Linked DNA regions of Homo sapiens. Changing the gene in region 2 together with the main gene of any one other region gives a genetic interaction. Each region holds a gene or a part of one and is shown on either strand. Other genes may lie near its edges.

Evidence for each region. Genes that interact genetically often act in the same process or in processes that back each other up.
Region 1: changes in CNIH1 (region 2) and PTAR1 are lethal when combined (synthetic lethality), as found in Homo sapiens cells (one study listed by BioGRID).

The regions. Positions count from the first base shown.
Region 1 is NC_000009.12:69,722,012-69,729,040, forward strand, and holds part of PTAR1 (protein prenyltransferase alpha subunit repeat-containing protein 1), read right to left. Parts: intron 1,620-7,029; coding exon 1,315-1,619; intron 1-1,314.
Region 2 is NC_000014.9:54,438,363-54,445,662, reverse strand, and holds the start of CNIH1 (protein cornichon homolog 1), read left to right. Parts: upstream 1-4,288; 5' UTR 4,289-4,335; coding exon 4,336-4,416; intron 4,417-7,300. UniProt on the Homo sapiens protein: Involved in the selective transport and maturation of TGF-alpha family proteins.

The sequences.
Region 1 (7,029 bases), on a different chromosome or scaffold from region 2:
CTTGAAAACATGAAATAAGTGTCTTGGTTTTAAGAGAAAAAGAATGTTCTCTACTAATGAAGGTGCCAAAGAGGGGAGATAATCTTTTATGTTCTGAATATATTTAGTAAGGAAAAGCAGCTGACCAGGTCTCCTCAAATAACCTGCAAGACAGACTAGACTGGAGAAAGAAAGAAAATCTCAATAACTTTAGAAATAGGCAATTTTAAACAATGCCTACCTCCTTCCTGCCTAGCACAGGCAAGTCTTTCATTTACAAATACAATGCTATGGCCTAAAGTAGAATCTGTATTTATGAAGATGAAGATGCCTCCAAATAAAGGAAGATCCAAAAGAAATGAAGCTGGGAAGGGGTCACATATGTGACTTCAGTCCAACATACTGTCAAATGTACTCACAACTGAAGTTGATAGGTTGCTAACCCTTTTTCACTCTTTGCTACCAGACTTTCCCCTCTCTCAAAGAGAAATTCTCTTACACTTTAAACAAAAAGTGTCAAGAGATTATACTTCAGGTAAGTTAATTTGCAGACCATCAGGGTTGGAAAAATGATAAAGCATACCTTATTCTTGGGGTCTAATCAAATCTCAATCCTGACTGTGCATCAATGTGTTGAGCTTTTTCTAGGGGGGAAAAAAAAAAAAGGGCCAGGCATGGTGGCTCACACCTGTAATCCCAGCACTTTGGGAGGCCAAGGCAGGCAGATCACCTGAGGTCAGGAGTTCGAGACCAGCCTGGCCAACATGGTGAAATTCCGTCTCTACTAAAAACACAAAAATTAGCCCGGTGTGGTGGTGGGTGCCTATAATCCCACCTACTTGGAAGGCTGAGGCAGGAGAATTGCTTGAACCTTGGAGGCCGAGATTGCAGTGAGCCGAGATCGCGCTATTGCACTCCAGCCTGGGCAAGAAGAGCAAAACTCTATCTCAAAAAAAAAAAAAAAAAAAGAGAGATGGCAGCAATCCATCCTAGATATGCTAAATATTAGTATCTCCAAGGAAGGAGTCAAAAAAACTTCTGATTCTGTTTTATTTTGGAACTAACACAGGTTATTCTGTTGCACAGTCAAGGTTGAATATCACCATCCTAAGCTGCAGGCAGAGATCTACATGAGGAATCTCTTATTAATGATGATGATGATGATGATGACGATGATATGGTAACACAAAACCTCTTGTATTCACTCAGGCAAAGCTCCACAATCAGATGACCATGTTTACCCAAGCAGGCAGGAATCAGGTGTAACTAACACTTTCTGCAGCTCTCATGAAGACATGCAGTTTTGTGTAGGAAATAGATTTTCCCTTTTCTTACCTATGACACCAAAGGGTTTCATGTCCTGGGTAGGAATCAATAAGATCAGTGCTGAATTCAACTTCTTCTTCTAGAAGATGGGGAAGATTAATCCTTGGTTCTTCTGTTGAAACTGCTGCTTCTTCATCTTTTGGAGGAACTAGGGCTGGCTCACTTCTCAAAGGATTTTGCTCCATCACAGAACTGTCTATCACAGTTTGGCTAATCAAAGACTTAAGCAAAAACTGGCGGTAGTGAAATCCACTGTGGTCTGAAACGTGCATAGATGCCCAATGTTTAGTAGAAGATAGTTCATCAAGAAGAATCTTTTAAGAAGAAAAAAGGGAAGTAAGAAGAAGAGTTCCCAAAGGTTCTTCTTTCTCCATTATTGCCTCTGATTTCTCTTTGATTTGTTCCTTTTTTGACAAGACCATTCTTACCAATATTTTGTACACAATGTCTAGCACAGTGCTCTCACTTAGTGGAAGCTTAATACATGCGAATTTTCTCTTTCCCATATAAAAGTGATAGATTTTTTTTTAAGACTAAAGAATTTAAGGACTCATTTGTCATCCTTTCCCTAGACCTTGACTACTCACATTCTGATTGGTACACACAGAGAAGGAAAATAAAATTCTAAAATAATGATGAGCATTAGGGTATTCATTTACAAGTAATGCTGACGTAAAAGCAAAAATATAAACTCAGATTACTTTGATATAAACTTTATTTTACATTTAATAAATGTGTATAATATGTAACTTATTATCTCTACAATAGGCTCAGTGAAATTATTTGTTCTTCAATATAAATGTCATGAGGGCAGAGACCGTGTCTGTCTTGCTCACTACTTAATTATAAGGGATTAGTAGAAAAACATGATGCACTAATAATAAGATTTTTTCAAGAGCTCGTGACTTTAACTGTCTCAAACTTACTTAACAGTAATAATAAATGGGTTTTAAAATAACTGAAAATTCAGCAGCAAATTGTTTAAATCTTTGTGATACCAATATCTTGCAAACTAAAGAATTTCAAATGAAATGATTTTTTAAAAAGCAGCACCTATGCAAAAATAATTTATTTGAGAGTGTCTTGGACAGGTCGCAAACATAAATCAGTGAAAGGTATATCAAGTGCCTACCACGTTCCGTCAGAGGATTTTCAGACCAGCTAAGGAAAAAAGACATACATTTGTGAACAGTTAACAATACAGACAGCATAATGCTGAATGACACCTTTACCTGTTTGTCAAAGGTCCCAGGCAAATGCCTTCTCCTGTACCATGATCTTTTTTCCATTTCTTACACCATTTTTCTTCCGCGGGAATCTTTCCTTTTGCTGAACCCCCATAGTACTTATGTATTCCATCACATTTATTAAAGAATTTCAGTGCATCTCTTCATTCTCATTAAACTCAGTGAGTGAGGGCTTTAAGATATTTATTCATTCCTATCTGATACTTCAATCCCCCTATACCTACTGACATCAAAGTGGATACATAAATATTTTATGAAATGAATGAACAATTTAATAAATAAGGCAAATAGTAAGATTACTTCCAGCCAAGATAGTCAAGTTGTATCAGTGATATGTTTTAAACATCTCCTTTAAGTTCCAATGAGTTTATTCATAGCCACCTAAATTTATTCCAGAGGCTATAGCTGGCAAGTATCTGAGAAATGGAAAACAGTATCTTTATTTGATTTTAAAAGGTGAAGAAAAATAGCACCAGATAAACTCCTACCTGAAATAAAAATCAATCTTACATTTATTACATTTTTGAAAAATAAACCTGTAGAACATTCTGGCTATAATACAGCAGCTTTTTTATTTTGGCATGGCTTCTTAACATGGATTGAAAAGAGTACTCCACTTATTTAAAATGAACTTATATAATATGAAAACATTTAGATTATTTCTAACTGGATATTTCTATGTATAAAATTGCAGTTTATTATTTAATTTTGAGGCAAAAATAGCACACATATAAAAGATGTTCTGGCTGTGCGTGGTGGCTCATACCTGTAATCCCAGCACTTTGGGAGGCTGGGGCGGACGGATCACCTGAGGTCAGGAGTTGGAGACCAGCCTGGCCAAAATGGTGAGACCCTGTCTCTACTAAAAATACAAAAATTTGCAGGGCGTGGTGGTGCATGCCTGTAGTCCCAGCTACTTGGGAGGCTGAGGCAGGAGAATAACTCGAACCTGGGAGGTATAGGTTGCAGTGAGCCGAGATTGCTCCACTATACTCCAGCCTGGGCGACAAAACAAGACTCCATCTCAAAAAAGAAAAAAAATATATATATATATTTTCAACAAAATCAATTTCTTAAAAAAATTCTTAGGCTTTTAAAGAGAAAATCCACTATATTCTTTTCCCTAAGATATAAAGATGCATATTAGAAACTTTAACTGGAATTTCAGGGTATTCTCTTGTTAGAATAAAAAGATATAAAGATAGAGGCAATGATTTTTTTAAAAAAGACAGCAATTACTTTTAAGTGATCCAGTTAACTTTTAAGTGATCTAAAGATACTATATGAAGATATGGCTTTAATGTACAGTACTGATGGGATAAATGACCTTCGTATGATATACGTTAAATATCTTTCTTTTCCTACTTCCATATGAAAACATGAATAAGTGAATAAATAAACTACAAGAAAACTGCAAATGCAGGGCTATGAAAAAGAGGGATAACGTGCTAAAAATGAAAGACTACTAAAAATACATATGCCATAGGTCCTTTAAACTTTTAAAAATAGTATTTGGGTTTTCTTCTGATTATAAAAGTGATACAAAATGATCAATATAGAAAATTCCAATAATATGGGAAAATATAAAAAAGCAAACAAAAATCATCCATTATTTTGTTGGCCAGAGATCACTACTTGTAACATTCTGGCAGAAAACAAATCTTTCAGGTTTTTTTCTATGTATGCACATGCACAGAGTTTATTTTTAAGAAAAATCTGGGATATTCTTTTGTACCAATTTTATTCTACTTCAATTATAAATACATTCCTATGGCATTAAATATTATTCTATAATTTTTAACTCGTAAAATATTTCACCCTCAAGATTAACAGAATTTAACCATTCCTGTGTTTGTTTCTACTCTTGTATAAGTAACACTCATAAATAAATCTATGTACATATCTAATTATTTAGGAGAAATTTGTAGAAATATACTTGCTGGAACAAAGAAAAAAACTTTATAAAGTTCTTGATATATAAAGTGTCCTGCAGAAAGACTGTATAATTTATACTCCTATTGGAAGTACATGTTAATGCTTATTTCCTAAATTCATCATCAATACTTTAATCTTCACTAATAAGAATCACATTTCATTTTAATTTACATTTCCTTAATTATCATTAAGCCTAAATATCTTTTCTTGTGTGATTACTTTTCCTTTGCTTCTTCATTTATGAACTGCCTATTTTGCCTAATTCTCTACTTTTATGAATTATCTAATTTACTATTTGTGATAGTCATTATTTTTCTTACGAGTTTGTAAGAGGTCTTTACATATTAAAGATATTAAGTCTCTATTTGTCATATGTGTTATAAATATTATTTTCGATATATTACTGCAACTGATTTTTTAAATTCTTTTTTTTTTTTTAAAGATTGGGAGTCAAGTAAAATTCTTTTTTTTCTTTTCTCCCTCAGGTCTATTGAAGAAGTATAAATGACAAATTAAAATTGTGTATATACACACACACACACACACACACACACGTATACACACACATATATATATACGATGTACGACATATTGTTTTTATGTATACACTGTGAAATGATTACCACCATCAAGTGAATTAACTTATCTATCACCTCACATAAGTATTTTATTTTTTGTGGTAAGAACATTTAAGATAACGCTCTTAGAAATCTTTGGGTATACATTATTAACAGTAATTACCATGTTCTACCATTAGACCTCCAGAACTTACTCATCCTAACGGAAACTTTGTACCCTTTAACCAGCAACTCCCTGTTCCCCACCACAACCCCTACTCCTGCAATCACCATTCTACTATTTCCATGAGTTCAACTTGTTTAGAGTCCACCTACAAGTGACACCATGCAATATTTATCCTTCTGCGCTTGGCTTATTTCACTTAGCATAATGTGAGTCTCTTTTCTTCATATAGGTTTTTATTCCATTTAAAGTTCAATTTGGTATTTAAGATTAAAAAAAAAAAACCACCTAACTTTCTATTTTCTAAAAAGTCAATAAATTTTACCAGCATCACAAATTGAACAGGGAATCCTTTCTCTAATTATGTGAAATGCCATATTCATCATTAATGAAATATGTACATATTATGTATTGGAATTTGTTTCTGGACTTTATATTCTGTTCCATTACTGAGTCTATTTTTGAAATAGCATCACAATTTTAATTACTCTGTCTTATTAATAAACATGTAAGTATCTAATGGTAGAGTGTTCTTTATTGTTTTTCCCAACAATTCCTCAGCTATTCTTTAAGCTTTATTCTCTCTAATGTACTTTAGAATCATTTTTGAAGTGAAAAAATAAATCAGTGGTTTTTAATATATTCACAGAATTGTGCAACCATTGCTCTTATCTAATTTCTAATGTTTTCACCACCCCCACAAAACCCCATTCCTATTAGAAGTTACATCCCATTCCCTCCTCCCCAGCCTCTGGCACCCACTAACCTGCTTTGCCTATTCTGAACATGTTATATAAATGAAATCATACAATATGTGGCCTTGAATCTGACTGCTTTCAATCAGCATGTTTTCAAGGTTCATCCACGTTATAGCATGTATCAGTATTTCCTTCCTTTTTTATGGCCAATGTTCTATTGCATGGATACGCCACATTTTGTTTTCCATTCCTCAGGTGAGGTATTATTTTTTGGCTATTATAAATAATATGGCTATTAATGTTCTCATACAAGATTTGGTATGGAATGTGTTTTCACTTCTCTTGGGTATATACCTAGGAGCAGAATTACAGGGTCATATATGGTAATGCATGTTTTTCTCCAAGAATATGATATATATTAACTATAGTTTTATTAATATATAGTGATTCTATGTTTAATTATTTGAGGAAATGCCAAACTGCTTTCCACAGTGGCTGTACCATTTTACATTCTTACCAGCCATAAATAAGAGTTTCAGTTTCTCCACATCCTAACCAACATTTGTTATTGTCCGTATTTTGGTGTGAAGTGGTATCTCACTCCCTGTGGTTTTGCTTTGCATTTCCCTAATAGTAAAGATGGTGAATATCTTTTCATGTCCTTATTGGTGGTGTGGGTAGGTTTTTTGGAGAAATGACTATATGTGCTTTTTTTATGTGAAACTTGTAATTTGCCAGTAGTAATAAACTGCCTGACTGTGAATCTTTCCTGCCACACTACCCTCAAATATAAAAATATTTTAAAATTTACTTAAATGTTTATTTAAGCATGCAGACATCAGAGAGAACATAAAATAGAAAATTAGTGTCATAATTCCACCCTATACTACTTTTAATCAATCTTTATTCTTTAACCTTTTTCTGACTAGAAAACAAATATATGCTTTTATAAAAAATACAAGAAAAAAATCTATAGCATTGTTGTGTGTATGTATTACTATCTGTTCAGCATTTACCATGTGCCAAGCACTGTTTCAAACACTTTAAAGTATTTGCTGTCTCATTCAATGCTAATAAATACATTAAAAATTATATTAGGCTGC
Region 2 (7,300 bases):
TTTTTAATTAAAAATTTTTTTTGGAGACAAGGTTTCATTCTGTCACCCAGGCTGGGGTGCAGTGGCGCAACCATGGCTCACTGCAGCCTCCAACCCCATGGCCTCAAGCAATCCTTGTGCCTCAGCTTCCTGAAGTGTTGGAATTGCAGGTGTGTTCTACCTTGCCCAGCTTAATTTAAATTTAAATAGTCACATGATTAGTGGCTCCTGTATTAGACAGCACAAGCCTAAAGTTTACCTGTGTGCTCTGGTAATATGTGAAGGGGGCTTCATCCTACTGCAGCTTATATAACTGTGTGAATCAGTCAGCACTCCACCTGGCATAGAACAGGTGCTCAACAAACCTTTGTTGAAATACCTAAAATGCTACCCTTGAAGAAAGTTGGTGGGGAACCTGGGTTTTATGTAACCGCTGTAGGGGTTGAGGCAGGCAAAATTTCTCTTACAAATTTCCTTTCTCCTCAGGTGAAATAGGGGTAGCCCCTTCTAATTAAGGGTGGGTGCCTGGGAGACAGTTTCATTCTATGAGATAAGGTGCTAGCCTAGTCAGCAGAGAAGGAAAACACACATTTCAAGTGAAGCCGGAGAAAAACTTGTTGCCAAAAGGTAGGATTTCTTGGTATCTGGTGATGAAACATCATTTCCCAAGTTGTAGATGGGATTCATCTGGAAAAAGGGGGTTCGATTTCATGGTTTGGCTTGAGTAGTTCCCTGCAAACTCTCTCTCCCGAGCCCAGAAAGCTGCATCTGCCTTTCATTAGATTGTGAGTTCTCTTGCATAAATATTGCCTGATGCTGCGTTCTGCCGTGCCCGTGGCCTTAAGTACTGAATTAAATATCATTTGCCTCCTTCTTCGCTTTCACCAGGGCATCCAGTTAATCAAGTTCAGCTGAGCTTGTCTCCCAACTACTATCAAGCATGTTTACCCCTTTCCTTCCCACCTTCCACTGCTCTAGTTCAGATCCATAGCAACTTTTGCTTGGACCATTGCCGTGGGACCCGATTTCCAATCTAACACTCCTCTAATCAGGGTCATTGTGCACAGTTGGGCAGTTTGTGCACTGCACATAGGTGCACGACCAGGGTTGGTGGGGCTGAAGTATAGCTTGTGTTCCTACACTCTGGGGTGGGCCTCTGTCCATCTGCAGAAAGTAACTTTACAAAAAATGTTATTGGATTTTATTATTTTAAAAAAGAAATAGAGATGAGATTGTGCCTGGAATTGGTGGGTTCTTGGTCTGACTTCAAGAATGAAGCCACGGACCCTCGTGGTGAGTGTTACAGCTCTTAAGATGGCGCGTCTGGCGTTTGTTCCTTCTGATGTTCGGAAGCGTTCGGAGTTTTTTCCCTCCTGGTGGTTCGTGGTCTCGCTGGCTCAGAAGTGAAGCTACAGACCTTCGCAGCGTTACAGCTGTTAAGGCGGTGCGTCTGGAATTGTTCGTTTCTCCCTGTGGGCTCGTGGTCTTGCTGGGTTCAGGAATGAAGCTGCAGACCTTTGTGGTGAGTGTGACAGCTCATAAAATCAGTGTGGAACCAAAGAGAGAGCAGTAGCAAGATTTATTGCAAGGAGCGAAAAAACAAATCTCCCACACCATGGAACTGGACTTCAGCGGGTTGTCCCCGCTGGCTCCGGCAGCCTGCTTTTATTCTCTTATCTGGCCCCACCCATGTCCTGCTGATTGGTAGAGCCGAGTGGTCTGTTTTGACAGGGCGCTGATTGGTGCGTTTACAATCCCTGAGCTAGACACAAAGGTTTTCCATGTCCCCACCAGATTACTTAGATACAGAGCATCCACACAAAGGTTCTCTAAGGCCCCACCAGAGTAGCTAGATACAGAGTGTCCATTGGTGCACTCACAAACCCTGAGCTAGATACAGGGTGCTGATTGGTGTGTTTACAAACCTTGAGCTAGATACAGAGTGCTGATTGGTGTATTTACAATCCCCGAGCTAGACATAAAGGTTCTCCAAGGCCTCACCAGAGAAGCTAGATACAGAGTGCACATTGGTGCATTCCCAAACCCTGAGCTAGACACAGGGTGCTGATTGGTGTGTTTACAAACCTTGAGCTAGATACAGAGTGCTGATTGGTATATTTACAATCCCTGAGCTAGGCATAAAGGTTCTCCACTTCCCCCCGAGACTCAGGAGCCCAGCTGGCTTCACCCAGCATATCCCACACCGGGGCTGCAGGTGGAGCTGCCTGCCAGTCCCGCGCCGTGCACCCGCACTCCTCAGCCCTTGGGTGGTCGATGGGACTGGGCGCCATGGAGCAGGGGGTGGCGCTCGCTGGGGAGGCTTGGGCTGCACAGGAGCCCATGGAGGGGGTGGGAGGCTCAGGCATGGCGGGCTGCAGGTCCCGAGCCCTGCCCCGCGGGAAGGCAGCTAAGGCCCGGTGAGAAATCGAGTGCAGCGCCGGTGGGCTGGCACTGCTGGGGGACCCAGTACACCCTCTGCAGCCACTGGCCCGGGTGCTAAGCCCCTCATCACCCGGGGCCGGCAGGGGCGGCCGGCTGCTCCGAGTGAGGGTCCCGCCAATCCCACGCCAACCCGGAACTCCAGCTGGCCCGCAAGCACCCTGCGCAGTCCCGGTTACCCCTCGCGCCTCTTCCTCTACACCTCCCTGCAAGCTGAGGGAGCTGGCTCTGGCCTTGGCCAGCCCAGAAAGGGGCTCCCATAGTGCAGCGGTGGGCTGAAGGGCTCCTCAAGTGCCGCCAAAGTGGCAGCCCAGGCAGAGGAGGCGCCGAGAGTGAGGGAGGGCTGTGAGGACTGCCAGCACGCTGTCACCTCTCAAGATCTCATTACCTTGTCCAGGCTGGTCTTGAATTCCTGAGCTCAAGTGATCCTCCTGTCTTGGCCTCCCAAAGTGTTAGGATTACAGGCATGAGCTGCTGTGCCTGGCCAAAAGTAACTTGATAATTTGCACACAGGTGCCACATAATCCTGGTGGTACAGGTTGTACTGTCCAATACACTAGCCACATTTTACTTAAAGTGATGTGAAATTTAAAGTTCAGTTCCTCAGTCATGCTAGACAATTTACAAGTGCCCAATGGCCACATGTGGCTAGTGGCTACTGTATTGGGCAATGTTTAGGTATCGAAAATTTTCACCATCACAGAAGGTTCTATTGCACAGCACTGGACAGACCCTGCTTCTAAACTATTCTACGCAATTTGCTAGGTGAACGATCTTTAATGCAAATCTAAACATGGTCTTCTTTTGCTCAAAAGCCTTCAATGATTTTCTCTTCCATCAGCAGCAATCAGTTAATAGAGTTTTTTTCTTTTAAAAATGGTTGTAATGGAAAGTTAAATCAATTTTGAATCAATTTTGTGTGTTAAGACCAGCATTAAAAACAAGTAGCAAAAGAGAGAAGGGAAAGTACTTATGGATCATTAGTACAGTTTTGTGAAATTTTTGTTTTGGTCATATCTATATTTCTTTGCCTCTATAACTAGATTTCCACCTCTTCATAACTTGATGTCTGTATGATATTCCACTGGGTTGCAATGAAAAAAATCTTTCTAGTTGTGTGTGGTGAGCAAAAAATTTGGGCTTATGGGATAAGAAGTCTGAGCTCCGTAATGAAGCATTATAAGGCCCTCTATGATCTGATCCCTTGCTAATTCATTTCTAAGTCTCACCACTGTCTTGCACTTAGGTTCCATTAATACAGAATTGCTGCTGGTTTCACCTGAGACACGAAGCTTTATTTTTCTTTTCTTTTTTCCATCTCTGTTGCGTTTCCTCATTCTGAACTGTTTCCTTGGACTGCCAGTTCTACCTTCTTTTTGCCTGGAGAACTTATCATCATCTAAGGCCAACTTAGGAAACACCTACAGCAGGAATCCTGCCTAAATGCTCCAGGGCGGGCTGGCTGTCCTTCTTTGACCTTTCAGAGCATCCCACACACATCCGTTTACGGGGTTATAATAACGTAATTATTTATTTAGGTGTTCATTTCCGGCACTATACTAAGTTCTTTCAGTGCAGGTACTATCTTATTCATCTTTGTATCTGAAGCGAGAAGCGCGGTACCTGTAACAAACTAGGCATTCATTCAATAAATATTTGTTGAAAGAATAAACGCAAGAAGGAAGGAAAAATCAATCAACAACTGTGCGGACAATGTCAGTGCAACGCAGACTCCGGCCATCAGAGGGCGCCGGGGCGGCTGGGCTGGTGCGCAGGCGCGCTGAGAGGGCTGGCGCCGCGGCGGTAGCGGTGGCGGTCGCGGCTGTGGCCGGGGGAAGTGAATGGTTTTACCCAGAGGGCCCTGCGCCGCCTTTCTCCGCTGGCAACGGCGCCGCTCCCCGCTCCTCCTCCCCAGCCATGGCGTTCACGTTCGCGGCCTTCTGCTACATGCTGGCGCTGCTGCTCACTGCCGCGCTCATCTTCTTCGCCATTTGGCACGTGAGTAGCTGGGGCTGGGGAAAGGAGGGCGAGGCGGCAACACAGCCTCTTTTCGCCCCGGGCCCGCGGTCCGGGCCGCCACGGCCGCCGGGGCTTTGCGCGTCGGGGATGCGGCCCGGCTGGCACGGGCCGCGCGGCGAGGGGTCTGGGGGCCGCGGGTACTGGAGGAGCCGGGGCGCGCAGTCGCCAGGTGGACGCGCCCGCGTTGCCTCGGCACAGGCCGCGCGCACCGCTACTCCTCCCCTACTGGATGGGGCGGCCGCGGTCCAGGCGGGCGCCCGCGGTTCCGCGCTGCGTTCGCACCGACCTCTGCCGGCCCGCGGCCCTGCATTCCCGGGGAGGATGTCGACAGCGCGGTGGGACGGCCGTAGTGTGAATGAAGTTTTCCGAATTTTTGTTAATACAGATTGACTTTCTTTTAGGGTTTCCACAGAACTGTGGCCAAAATGTAACCTACTTAGGGTGAATTTCCAACTCTACTTTTCAGCACTTGTTCGGTGCTCTTCAAATCAAATCACTTTTTTTCTCTTTTTCCAGATTGTTGTTTCCTGGTGAACTTTGATGCAAGTTCAATTGATTACTTTGTTGATTGCATGTGCGCGTTTCCCCCCCAAATCATACTTTGACCGCTGGAGTTTCAACAGGCAGCTTTCCAAGCCACCCTTATATTCAGGATTGCTTGATTTAGTAGAGGGAGTTTTCATTTGATTTTGAGATGCTCAGAAACCTTAAGCTTTTCTGGGGCAGTATTTATTTCTGTTACACACATCATCATCACTATTGCAGGGTGGAAGCACAGCCTTACTGGTCCCTCTAAGGAAAAAGTCGTAAGTTCCCTGTGACATAGTTCTACAGAGATAAGAATTTCTGTTGCTTTAGCACAAAATTAAAAGCCTTGAGAGCCTTCTGGAAATCATTCATTAAAAATTTATCTCATACTTGCTTCTCTTTTCCCCATATTCCAGTGCCTTCTGGAATGTTGCTTTTAATTTGAATGACCGCGTTCACTCTTACGTAGATTTTAAGTCAGGTTTCATCATGCCAGTAACAAGGATTTCTATGAAACATACGGAGGGGCAGAATGATTAAACAGCAGCAGCGTCTTGTGCAAAAAAGTCTCGAAAGTGGAAGCATATCACAAATCCATTCCTTTTTGCTAAGCAGTGTGATTATGTTTACAATTATTTTAGGACCTGACTGCTTATTGTAATCAGGAATACTTATGTAGGCTATTAACTGTGTCGGAAATAACTGCTACCTCAGAATGCTTGTCAGTAGGAGCAGTAATTTGAAGAGCATCTTCAGCCCTGCTTTGATGGAAGAACAATACCTAAGATAATTTGGGATACAGACTAGCTCAACCTTAGTAGGCCTCTGATGAAAATGTGTGGTTCCATGGCCGGGCGCGGTGGCTCACTCCTGTAATCCCAGCACTTTGGGAGGCCGAGGCGGGAGGATCACGAGGTCAGGAGTTCGAGACCAGCCTGGCCAACATGGTGAAACCCCGTCTCTACTAAAAATACAAAAAAATTAGCCGGGCATGGTGGTGGGCGCCTGTAATCCCAGCTACTCGGGAGGCTGAGGCGGAGGAGAATCACTTGAACCCAGGAGGCAGAGGTTGCAGTGAGCCGCGATGGCGCCACTGCACTCCATCCTGGGCGGAGACTCCGTCTCAAAAAAAAAACAAAAAAAAAGAAAGAAAGAAAGTGTGTGGTTCCATTCCATCTGTAGATGTAGCTTTAAGTCATTCTGCTTGATGGGTATTCCTTTTTTCTGGGATGATGGGGATTCTTAGAGTGGTGGGGTAGGCTTTTTCACATTTTTACGTTTTGAACCAGGTTGTGTTTGGCTTAAGGAAAACCTGAACCGCACTTTCAAAAAATGGGTAATTTCAGCTTAAACAAATGCGTGTCTGGGTGAAGTAAATAATTTTAAGTCGTGTTATACAATGAAAAAAAAATTATACCGCAGATTCGTGGAGAGCTTTTATGCTTAGGGATTTCTTCATTCAGAGAATTAGTATCCTTTTGGAAACAATTCTAAATAAATAGATAGTTTTAATTTTTCTATTACCCATATAACCTTATGTTTATCATCTTAGGTAGTATCTTAGTCCATTCCTTTATAGTGTTTATAGTGTTGCTATACAGGAATACGGGAGGCTGAGTAATTTACAAAGAAAAAAGAGGTTTATTTACCTCAGGATTCTGCTGACTATAAGACTGGGCATCTGGTGAAAGTCTCAGCCTGCTTCCACTCATGGTGGGGGAGTAGTGTGTGGAGATCCCATAGTGAGAGAAAGCAAAGGAAAAAGAGGGGGAGGTGCCAGGCGCTGTTTACAAGCCAGTTCTCTTGGGTCCTAATGGCAGGAGAACTCACTTATTCCCTCCAAGATGACACCAAACCATTCATGAGGGATCTGCTCCCATGACCCAAACACCTCCCGTTAGATCCCGCCTCCAACATTGGGGATCAGATTTCAACCTGAGATTTGGAGGAGTTAAACCAAACTCTAGCAGGTAGTTGAAGTATCTTTCAGAAGACTCATTTTACAATTTTTAAATTACATTCCAAAAATCTTATTTACATTAATCACTGTATTAGAGAATGTTTTTTATGCTGATGATTATATCTGTCAATTTAGTCCTAATTCATGTCATTGATGCTCTGTGGAGAATAGAGTCGGGAGCATAGATTGTTTGAAAAATTAAAAGCTTAAAAGTCATTCCTTAAAGATGTGTATTAAATTGGAAGGTATTCTGAATTGTGTACTTGGGCATCTTTAGGGATTTATCTGTTTTATTTTTGTTATACTTCTGTAGGAAATTTTGTGGGTGTCTTTGCTCAGCCACATAGCTGCAAAAAGATTTGAAAATCATTAAGA